3 linked regions of the Homo sapiens genome follow. The protein of the gene in region 1 purifies or fractionates together with the protein of each later gene. This does not show direct contact. Each region holds a gene or a part of one and is shown in the gene's direction. Other genes may lie near its edges.

The links.
Region 2: the proteins of ANXA6 (region 1) and ATF2 purify together in Homo sapiens (co-immunoprecipitation; one large-scale study listed by IntAct). This does not show direct contact.
Region 3: the proteins of ANXA6 (region 1) and CD9 purify together in Homo sapiens (co-immunoprecipitation; one study listed by IntAct). This does not show direct contact.

Annotation. Positions count from the first base shown.
Region 1 is NC_000005.10:151,102,892-151,105,834, reverse strand, and holds part of ANXA6 (annexin A6), read left to right. Parts: intron 1-531; coding exon 532-590; intron 591-2,142; coding exon 2,143-2,265; intron 2,266-2,943. UniProt on the Homo sapiens protein: May associate with CD21. May regulate the release of Ca(2+) from intracellular stores.
Region 2 is NC_000002.12:175,077,572-175,081,227, reverse strand, and holds part of ATF2 (cyclic AMP-dependent transcription factor ATF-2), read left to right. Parts: intron 1-462; coding exon 463-568; intron 569-3,656. UniProt on the Homo sapiens protein: Transcriptional activator which regulates the transcription of various genes, including those involved in anti-apoptosis, cell growth, and DNA damage response.
Region 3 is NC_000012.12:6,206,770-6,210,425, forward strand, and holds part of CD9 (CD9 antigen), read left to right. Parts: intron 1-3,656. UniProt on the Homo sapiens protein: Integral membrane protein associated with integrins, which regulates different processes, such as sperm-egg fusion, platelet activation and aggregation, and cell adhesion.

The DNA of each region.
Region 1 (2,943 bases):
CACTCACCTCTAGAGTTTCAGATTCAGCATCTCTGGAATCTGGAATCTGAGGCATGAGAATCTGCCTTTCTTCCAAGTTTTCAAGTGATGCTAATGTTGTTGGTCCGGAAACCACACTTTGAGAACCACTGCTCAAAATCTTTCCAAAATCTGAATCTTTAGGGTGGAGCCTAAACCCTGAGTTTTAAACAAGCTTTTTGGGTGATTCCAATGCATTTAAAAATTTGAGGCCCCGTGCCTTGGGTTCATGAGGAGTTAATTACCTTTGAATCCTCTCCTGACCTTGGTTAGCTGTAAGCACCTTAGAAGGAAGAGAGTTGCAACCAATTGAGAGCCAGGCCTAAGGATGGGCCAGAGGAGGAAGCATGGGGAAGGGGAGCAAAGGTGTCGTCTGAGCATGACCCTGGGGTTGACAATGATCTGCAGACCCATGCAGGGATAGACGAGGTGGGGAGATGGGGGAGGCCGGTCCAGAGTCTGGGTTCACAGCCTCTGACCACGTTCCCCGCATCTCTCTGCTCTTCCTACCAGTTCAAAGTGTCAAGAACAAGCCTCTCTTCTTTGCCGACAAACTTTACAAATCCATGAAGGTAAGAAAACATGCTGGCGTTCCTTTCCCTTCAAGCACTGACTTACATACACACACAAACACACAGATGTGCACCATCCCCCAGATCAGGATTCCTGGCAGCTGTTTCTTCCCATTTGACATTTATTAGCATCTGCCCTTGTCTGGCTCTAGGATGGTATTTCCCAGTTGGGGGTGATTTCCCCCGCCTTCCCCCGCCCCGGAGGATATTTGGCAATATCCAGACACATTTTTGGTCATCACAACTTGGAGATTGTTGCTACCAGCATCTGGTGGGGACAGAACAGGGATGCTGTTAAACAACCTCAGTGCAAAGGATAAGCTTGCGCAACAAAGAATTATCCAGCCCCAAATGCCAAGGTTGAGAAATGTGCTCTGGAGGCACACAGGGCTGGGTAGGACACAGTCTCTGCCCTCTCAGAGCTCACAATCTATCCGGGGACACAGGGTCTCCTAGGACAAATAGTCATCAAAGGTCACAAGCGCTCCCCTCTGAGTCTAGTCCTGCCCTTCTGGGAGAGCCCAAGCCACACTGGCCACCCTCTCAGCCACTGGAGTCTCAACTGCAGATAGCCTGGGCAGGTGGGAGGGTAGGAAGGAACCTGAGACCCTCACCCTACAGTCTCCAAATGTGACAGCCATTCATTGAGCACTCACGATGTGTCAAGCCTGTGCCAAGGGCTTCATCTCTCTGACCACAGCTGACCCTCATGGCAGTCCTGTGAAATTGTGGTAGCATCCTCATTTGATAGAGGAGGAAACTCAGGCCTAGGTAGGGTAAAACGTTGCCCACATTTACATAGCTCCTAAGAGGCAGAGCTGGGACTCGAACCTAGCTCTGACTCCTAGGCTGGTGCTTGTCGCTCCCTGGGGGCAGAGGCAGCTCTGGCTGCCCACACATTCCATGCCCTGTGCCTGCTCCTTGGGCCCGGTGGTAGTTTCCTAGGGCTGGTGTAACACATTCCAGAAATTGGGTGACAAAAGAAATTTATTCTCATAGTTCTGGAGGCCAAAAGCCCAAAATCAAGGTGTCGCCTGGGTTGGGTCCTCCTGGAGGCTCTGGGGGAGAAGCACTCCCCTGCCTCTCCTAGCTTCTGGTGGTTGCCAGAAGTCCTTGGTGTTTCCTGGCTGTGAATGCATCACTCCGGTCTCTGCCTCTGTCCTCACCTAGCCACTTTTCTGTGTGTATGTCTGTGCCCTCCCTCTTCTAAAGATATTGGTTATTGGTTTAGGCTTCAATCTAATTCAGTATGCCTTCATCTTAACTAATTACATGTGCAAATACCTTATTTCCAAATTACATCATGTTCTGAGTTTCCAGGTGGACATGGGGACACTATTCAACCCACACACATCTTTTTTGCGTGTCAGTCTGGCCAGTCCTGGGCACAGAGGGATTTTGGTCAGGACTGTTTGCAGAAGACAGAGGTGGAACATCCGCCCTGTTTTTGGAAGGAACAAGGGAGAAAGGCAGATGGGATACCACTGTTTCTTGCCTGACTGGGCTCTATCTCTCCTTCCGCCTGTGTCTCCCTCCTGCCTGGCTCCACCAGGGTGCTGGCACAGATGAGAAGACTCTGACCAGGATCATGGTATCCCGCAGTGAGATTGACCTGCTCAACATCCGGAGGGAATTCATTGAGAAATATGACAAGTCTCTCCACCAAGCCATTGAGGTAAGGGGAGGGGCTAGAGGTTAGCAGGAAGCGGGTGAGTGTCAGATCCCTAATATAAGATTAGAAGTCTTTATTCCCATGGACTTTTTTCCAGTGGGTTACCGCTTAGAACAGCCAGGATATTGAAATGAAAGGGGGTCTGTATTGCATTGTTTATACCGAAATCAATTCCAAAAGAATCAAAGGTTTATAATTAAAGATTTCCAAATAAAACAAGAGCCCATTTTTTGCTTTTTTTAAAGCAATGTTATGGAAGTATAACTTACATATCATGGGCAGGCATGGTGGCTCACACCTGTAATCACAGCACGTTGGAAGGCCAAGGCAGGTGGATCACTTGAGGTCAGGAGTTCAAGACCAGCCTGGCCAACATGGTGAAACCCTGTCTCTACTAAAAATACAAAAATTAGCTGGGTGTGTTGGCTCATGCCTGTAATCCCAGCTACTCAGGAGGCTGAGGCAAGAGAATCGCTTGAACCCAGGAGGTAGAGGTTGCAGTGAGCTGAGATCACGCCACTGCACTCCAGCCTGGGCAACAGAGCAAGACTCCATCTCAAAAACAGACAAACAAACAAACGAAAAACTTACATATCATAAAATTCACCTGTTTTAAGGGTACAATTCAACAGTTTTTAGTAAATTTACTGAGTTGTACAACCATTCCCATAATGCAGCTGG
Region 2 (3,656 bases), on another chromosome or scaffold:
CTGTGGAGCTTTTCTTGGTTTCTAGGAAACTGGAAACTTGCTTATTTGAATTTCTAGGATGATTTTTTTCATTTTTAGGTGAATGGAATCAGTGAAAATTCATCCTGACTCCCTTGATGTTTCTTTTTAAATAATCAGAAGAGCATGCAACATATATAAAATAAAAATACTTTCAACAGGTCACCAATAATATATAAGAAGTCCCAGGGAAATGGAAACAATTTTGAAATATGCTATCCAGCTGTGGCATTATCTTAAATTTTTATTCAAGTTACAGCTTTTTAATAAATGCTAAAATATAAAAGCTGCCCTGTGCTGATTAGACATATTTAATCAGCATATTTTCTTTGTTTTTAATGTTCTGCCAGTGATGTCCAATTTTATACTTTAATCCTTGCTTGTTTTAAATAGTAAAAAATATGTTTAGTCTGTGGTAAGGTACATAAGTTGTTTCTTCTCCAGAGTGAAGTCACCCTGCTGAGAAATGAAGTGGCACAGCTGAAACAGCTTCTTCTGGCTCATAAAGATTGCCCTGTAACCGCCATGCAGAAGAAATCTGGCTATCATAGTGAGTAATGTTCCATTACCTATAGCCTTAGGCTACGTCAGTGAAATACCGTCAGAGTGAACTGAGCTGCTACTTTAAAAATGGAGACTGTGCTTCTAATATTCAAGATTAAATATCAGAATTTCTGTAAGGTTATTATAGAATGCAGTAGAGAGGTATAATTTTTTAGAATCTAGAGAGTTTGAGTTTTCCTGTTTCTAGCTTTTTTCCTAAGCGTTACTATAGATCAACAAAATGGATTAGCTAATAATTTAAAATATACTGTAAGTACTTGATGATATTTTGTTCATCTTCTCAGGATAACACTTTGTCTTAGATTGACAGGGTGAAACACTACTTTTTTCCCAGCCTCCGTTCATTAATGATGATATTTTTCTTTTTAAAATCAGCTGACTGCCTTTAACAATATATGATATCCCTTTAAGGTATCAGATCCTATTGTTCTTTCTTAGATAATGTCAGCATTGTGTAACGTTTTTATTGTTGTAAACCTTTATATTGAGATATCTAGTTAGTTTATAAAAATGTTAAAACGGGAACAGTAGTTAAATTATCTGCTTGTAAATTTCCTGCTAAATGTTTTCCCAAAGAATGAGATTCTTTTGTTTTCAGCATTTTAAAGGTTAATTGTGCCTTTTCCTTTTTGTAATGTCCTTCTTTTTTGATAAGATGCACAGTGTTGGAACCAGCTGTTACTCTTGAATAAATGGCCAATTTTGTCCATAGTATACAAATTTGTAACAAACAACAGAGTTGGGAATGCATTAGGCAACATTTATAATATATAACCCACAGTTTTAGTCTTTATGATTTAGTGATATTTCAGGATATTAGTAAATGTGAAGATTGTTTCAACCATATGTATCCACTTCATTTTAATTTGCCAGTGTCAGTAATTCAAAAGAAAGAAACATTTTGTATTGGATGCAAACAGTTCCTCAGGTGCTCACGATAAAACTTAATGGCCACCATCTTTACTTGTAGTCATTATAAGCAGTTTCATCAGAATGGGCAATATTTTTTAATTTAAAAGATTCCGTAGATTTAGCTACTCTCAATTGCCATATATATTTAGAACGCTGATTTTTGTCAGTTTTGAGCATATAAATCTTGCTTATTTGATATCTAGTAATTTTGACAGGATGGTGAAACACATTGGAGTAAATTGGAACCATATAGAAATATGTTTGGGATTTATATTAACAATGATTGCTTCAGGGATGAGGCCATTATGGTTCCCATCTGACTTAACAACATAATTTCCTATAGAAGCTACTAGTTCAGCATTTATGCATACGTGATTTTCTTAACAAGAAATCTCTCTTGGATTTTCATAGTTTAAAAGGAAATAAATTGTTTTATAAAATTAAAAGGAAATTAACTGTTCTCTTAAATTGTATCCAATTCAGAATTACCTGTAATTTTTAAATCTTTGATAATTTATTAGATAATCCCAACAGTTTTGACTCTATTATCCAGGCAATGTATGCTCAGCAGATGCAAACCAGTTATTCATTTGACAATTGATTTACAAGATATCTTAAGTGTATAGATGCGTAGGTTTATATACTGTATACTTAAATGACTGAAAATCTAGATTAATACATTTTTAGTACATAGAGTACTAAGTTATGAGAATATAAGAAATGAATAGGATATGTTTGTTGTTTGGAAATAATCCTATCTTTATTCCTGTCTAGTCATGTAGATAATCAAATTAACTGAAATATAGTTCTACCATAAAATTAATTCTCTTCAGATCTTGGGAGATAATTGGATTTTGTAGAAATTTTCAGGTAATTTATATTTTCAAGTTTGAAATCTTTGAAATAAGTCTGACTTCTCTGTTGTGTAGTAGTAAAAATAGATACAGAAATTGACTAAGTGAATACCTTTGAAAAATTTACACTCTTCATTATGTTGTAGCACACAGCTCTTGCTAACAGTGGTGAGTTGTAATACTAGCTAAATCTTTAAAAACATTTGGGAATCAAAACTAAGATTTAGTAGAAATTAAGGAATGTTACAAAATCTTTCAAGTAAAGGTGGAAGTACTAAGTCACAGCCATAGGGTCTGTCCCGCCCAGTTTTAGCACTGAAAGTCCTACTTCCTAAGAAGACCCCTCAGTCGTGGGAAAACCATGACAGTTAGTCACCCCAACAGTTAAGTAATATAAAACCTGAATGAAAATACTAAGAGTACATTTTAAATATTTGGGTTCCATGAAAAATAAAGCACAAAAGTGATCTTATTGCCATGAATTCACATTCTTTAGATCTGGGCATAATTAAAGTTGTATTATAATTGTCTCTATAATTATAAATGGGAAGAAAAGCTTCTTGGGGACTAATCAACCACAAATACTTTTATTACTGAAAATATGTATAGGCCAGGCACTGTGGCTCATCCCTTGTAAGCCCAACACTTTGGGAGGCCAAGGCGGGAAGATTGTTTGAACCCATGAGTTCAAGACCAGTCTGGGTGAAATAGCGGGACCCCATCTCTACAAAAAATAAAGTTTAAAAAAGCCAGGCATTTTGGCACACACCTATAGTCCCAGCTACTTGGGAGGCTGAGGCAAGAGGATCACTTGAGCCCAAGAGTTCAAGGCTGCAGTGAGCTGTGATCGTGCCATAGCACTCCAGCCTGGGCGACAGGGAGACCCTATCTCAAATAAGGAAAAGAAACTTGTGGACATAGGTAGAGAACTTTCAAGATTACTGAATTGCCAAACAGCTGGTTTCTTTTAGCTTAGGTAGAGCTGGAAGTGGCTCTTTGAGTACAGCATGGTTTTCTGTATCTCTCTAGTGCTTGTGATTACACCAGTCATTTTCTCCCCTCACCTAGAACTGGACATAGGTGCAAATATATCACATTGTAAAGGTATTTGATGTGTATGTAAGGTTTATAATTACATAATTGTGAGTACCTGATTCTTTGTACTGCTTAAAGATTTGCTTTACCTAATTCTGAAAGTCTGTAGGTAAGCATTCATCCCTTATAATTTACTGTTTCATTTTAAGTTGTTGACTCCAGTATGTATTTACGTTTCCTTATACCACTCATCACAGATCAGCCTCTTTATTT
Region 3 (3,656 bases), on another chromosome or scaffold:
TGCTATATCCTGTCATCCTAGACTAATACATCTTAACGTTTTTAGGGAAATTCCTTTTTAGGGAATTCCTTGGAATCAGTACGACCTGCCTCCAGAAAAATGTTATGTCTGTTTCTGGAGGCCCATAGACATTTTTTTTTTTTTTGCCTTTTTCTCCATTGCCCAGGCTGCAGTATAGTGGCACCATCATAGTTCACTGCAGCCTCAAACTCCTGGGCTTTACACAATCCTGGCCTCAGCCTCTCAAGTAGCTGGGACTACAGCACACACCACTATACCCGGCTAATTTTTTTGTACAGAGAGGGTCTCTCTATGTCGCCCAAGCTGGTCTTGAACTCCTGGGCTCAAGCAGTCCTTCAGCCTCGGACTCCCAAAGCACTGGGATCATAAATGTGAGCCACCACGCCCAGCCTGAGCTCACGCTATAAATGCCCCATATTGGTTTTTCTCCCTCAGTTTCCAGACAACCCCTGCTCTGTCCTGAGTCCCATATTTCTGCCATAAGAAGCAGGTTGCCTCACCGTTCCCCGGGGGCTGCAATGGGGGCATCACAGGGGACTTTGTGAAAGGCATTAGAAATGATAAATTCCCTAGTGATCAAGTGCAGCTCAGATGGGACAGCTGGCCTCCCACCCATCCCTCTGACTCTCAGCTTAATCATTGCCTAAGGAGTGGTTTTCACTCGGTTAATTTAATGAGTGCTCTGTATTTCTAGTACACACGAAAAATGCAACTGTATGATCTTCCAGCCAGGTTGGGCCTCTTGGCTTAGCTTTTCCCAGAGCTTGGTGCTTCATCTTTGTTCAGGAAGAAAGGAGGTCTGTCTCTCTTCTCCTTCCCTCCAAATGCAGACGGAAAGTCTCGTCCTCTGAGGACTTGCAGAAAGGAGGAATGTCTCAGGAGGGATCATTTGGGGAGCTGCACTCCCAAGGAGTTGAGAAGCAGCCTGGTTGAGTAACTGGGAAAGGCAAAGCAGCCTGACTTGGAGAGGGGCCCGGATTAATGTGATTCCAGAGGAGGTCCCGGTAGAGAGAAGTTTGGGGACTACTGACTTGGAGAAAAATCAGAAACCCGGGTCTTAAGAGCCCTTCCTCTTCAATCCTTAAGCCAGGCATTGTGCCTGAGGGAAGAAATAGTGGCTCTTATGAGCTCTGCTAGAAAAGTAACCCTTCAGGCCAGGCGCGGTGGCTCACGCCTATAATCCCAGCATTTTGGGAGGCCGAGACAGGCGGATCACCTGAGGTTGGGAGTTTGAGACCAGCCTGGCCAACATGGAAAAACCCCCTCTCTACTAAAAATGCAAAATTAGCCAGTCATGGTGGCAGGTGCCTGTAATCCCAGCTACTTGGGAGGCTGAGGCAGGAGAATTGCTTGAACCTGGGAGGCGGCGGTTGCAGTGAGCTGAAATCGTGCCATTGCACTCCAGCCTGGGCGACAAGAGTGAAACTCCATCTCAAAAAAAAAAAAAAAAGAAAAGAAAAGTAACCCTTCACAGCTTACCCAATGCACATCCAAGTTTCCAGTGACACCTCTGAGCAGGCTAAGCAGCTGGTGGCTCCTGCCAAGCCCTCTCCTCGGAACTGAGCTTCACAGCTTCAGGTGCCAGTCCCTTGCTGACACTCCCAGTCTAAGCTGTGTGTTAGTCTCCAAGTTCAGAAACAACACAATACATGGGTCATAGGAGAAGAACCTCGACTGAGGCTAAAAATACCATAAAGTTAATCAGGCAGTTTTATTAATTATGAATTTATTAATTCAAAACCTATTCAAGGATTTTAGTTTTTTTTGTTTGTTTGTTTGTTTTTGTTCTTTTTTTTTTGAGGTGGAGTTTCACTCTTGTTGCCCAGGCTGGAGTGTAATGGTGCGATCGCAGCTCACCGCAACCTCCGCCTCCTGAGTTCAAGCCATTCTCCTGCCTCAGCCTCCTGAGTAGTTGGGATTACAGGGGTGTGCCACCATGCCCGGCTAATTTTTAGTAGAGACGGGGTTTCTCCATGTTGATCAGGCCGGTCTTGAACTCCTGACCTCAGGTGATCCACCCGCCTCAGCCTCCCAAAGTGCTGGGATTACAGGTGTGTAGTTTAATGTCTTTTAAACCTAAGTTGATTGAATGTAGTATGATAATACAGTGTACTGATTTATTAAAACTCTAAATGAAATGATCAGCAAAATCATACTATTTGTGAACTCATCATTGCTTTTTTTGTTGTTTGTTTTGAGACAGAGTCTCGCTCTGTCACCCAGGCTGGAGTGCAGTGGCGCAATCTTGGCATACTGCAACCTCTGCCTCCCAGGTTCAAGTGATTCTCCCGCCTCAGCCTCCTGAGTAGCTGCGACTACAGGCACATGCCACCACGCCCAGCTAATTTTTGTATTTTTAGTAGAGATGGGATTTCATCATGTTGGCCAGGCTGGTCTCACCTCAGGTGATCCACCCACCTCTGCCTCCCAAAGTGCTGGGATTATAGGCGTGAGCCACCGCACCGGGCTCGTCGTAGCTTTTCAAGTCAATAGAAATCTGGTGTTTGAATCCACATCATGTCTTCCCTTGTAGGTGGGCAGTTGCAGTGTGTAGTGTGCATGCACACCCCAGATTTATGCCCAACTCCACTGGATGTTTTCTGGGTGGGGAGTCATCCATACCTCCCTCAGCGGCCCCGTTCCTAGAGACGGGAGGCCCTTCCCACTAAGACATATTCCTCCTGCTCTCCATGGTGCAATGTAAACATCTTCTTTCTCACAATGTGGGACTGTGGATTTAAATTTATTATTGCTAAGCTCAGATGTTTTAAAGCTTCCTGTCTACAAGCCTGAGAAAATCTCTTCATACTCTCCTTTCCTCCTCTCTAGTCAAATTGTAGCCCTGGCTCCCTAAGACACAACCCTTTAGAGACCCAGACTGCAAATTTCTTTTTTTTTTTTTTTTTTTTTCTGAGATGGAGTCTCATTCTGTTGCCCAGGCTGGAGTGTAGTGGCACAATCTCGGCTCACTGCAACCTCTGCCTCCTGGGTTCAAGCGATTCTCATGCCTCAGCCTCTTGAGTAGCTGGGATTACAGGCATGTACCACCATGCCCGGCTAATTTTTGTGTTTTTAGTAGAGATGGGGTTTTGCCACGTTGACCAGGCTGGTCTCGAACTGCTGACCTCAGGTGATACGCCCACCTCGGCCTTCCAAAGTGCTGGGATTACAGGCGTGAGTCACCGCGCCCAGCTGGGACTGCTCATTTCAAATAGAAATTAGATTATCTTCTAGGATGAGGAGGGACACTTTGGCCTTCTTTGTCATGGGAGGCTGGCACTCTCCTCTAGGACCCTGGGGTGTGTCTTGAGAGCTCGTGCCCAGGGCTATAACACAGAGAGGCCTGTGCTGATGTCATCTTGTTCTGCCCTTTGCTGGCAGGGTGGTTCTGGGGAAGGGCAGAGGCTCCGGGTCCCACTCTGGGGCTGTTTTCACGGGGGATGGAAGGACCATGGCCACTGAACGGGCTGCGGTCCCGTCTATGGACACAATGCCAATGGGCAGCTGCAACAGTGCAGCCAAGGGGAAAGGAGGATGTGCGAGTTGCCCTGGAGAGTCCCTTCCCAGAGCGCCGCCTCTGTCCACCCTGACTATATGACCAGTGGAACCAAGGGTGTGGCTGAAGCTCTCAGGAC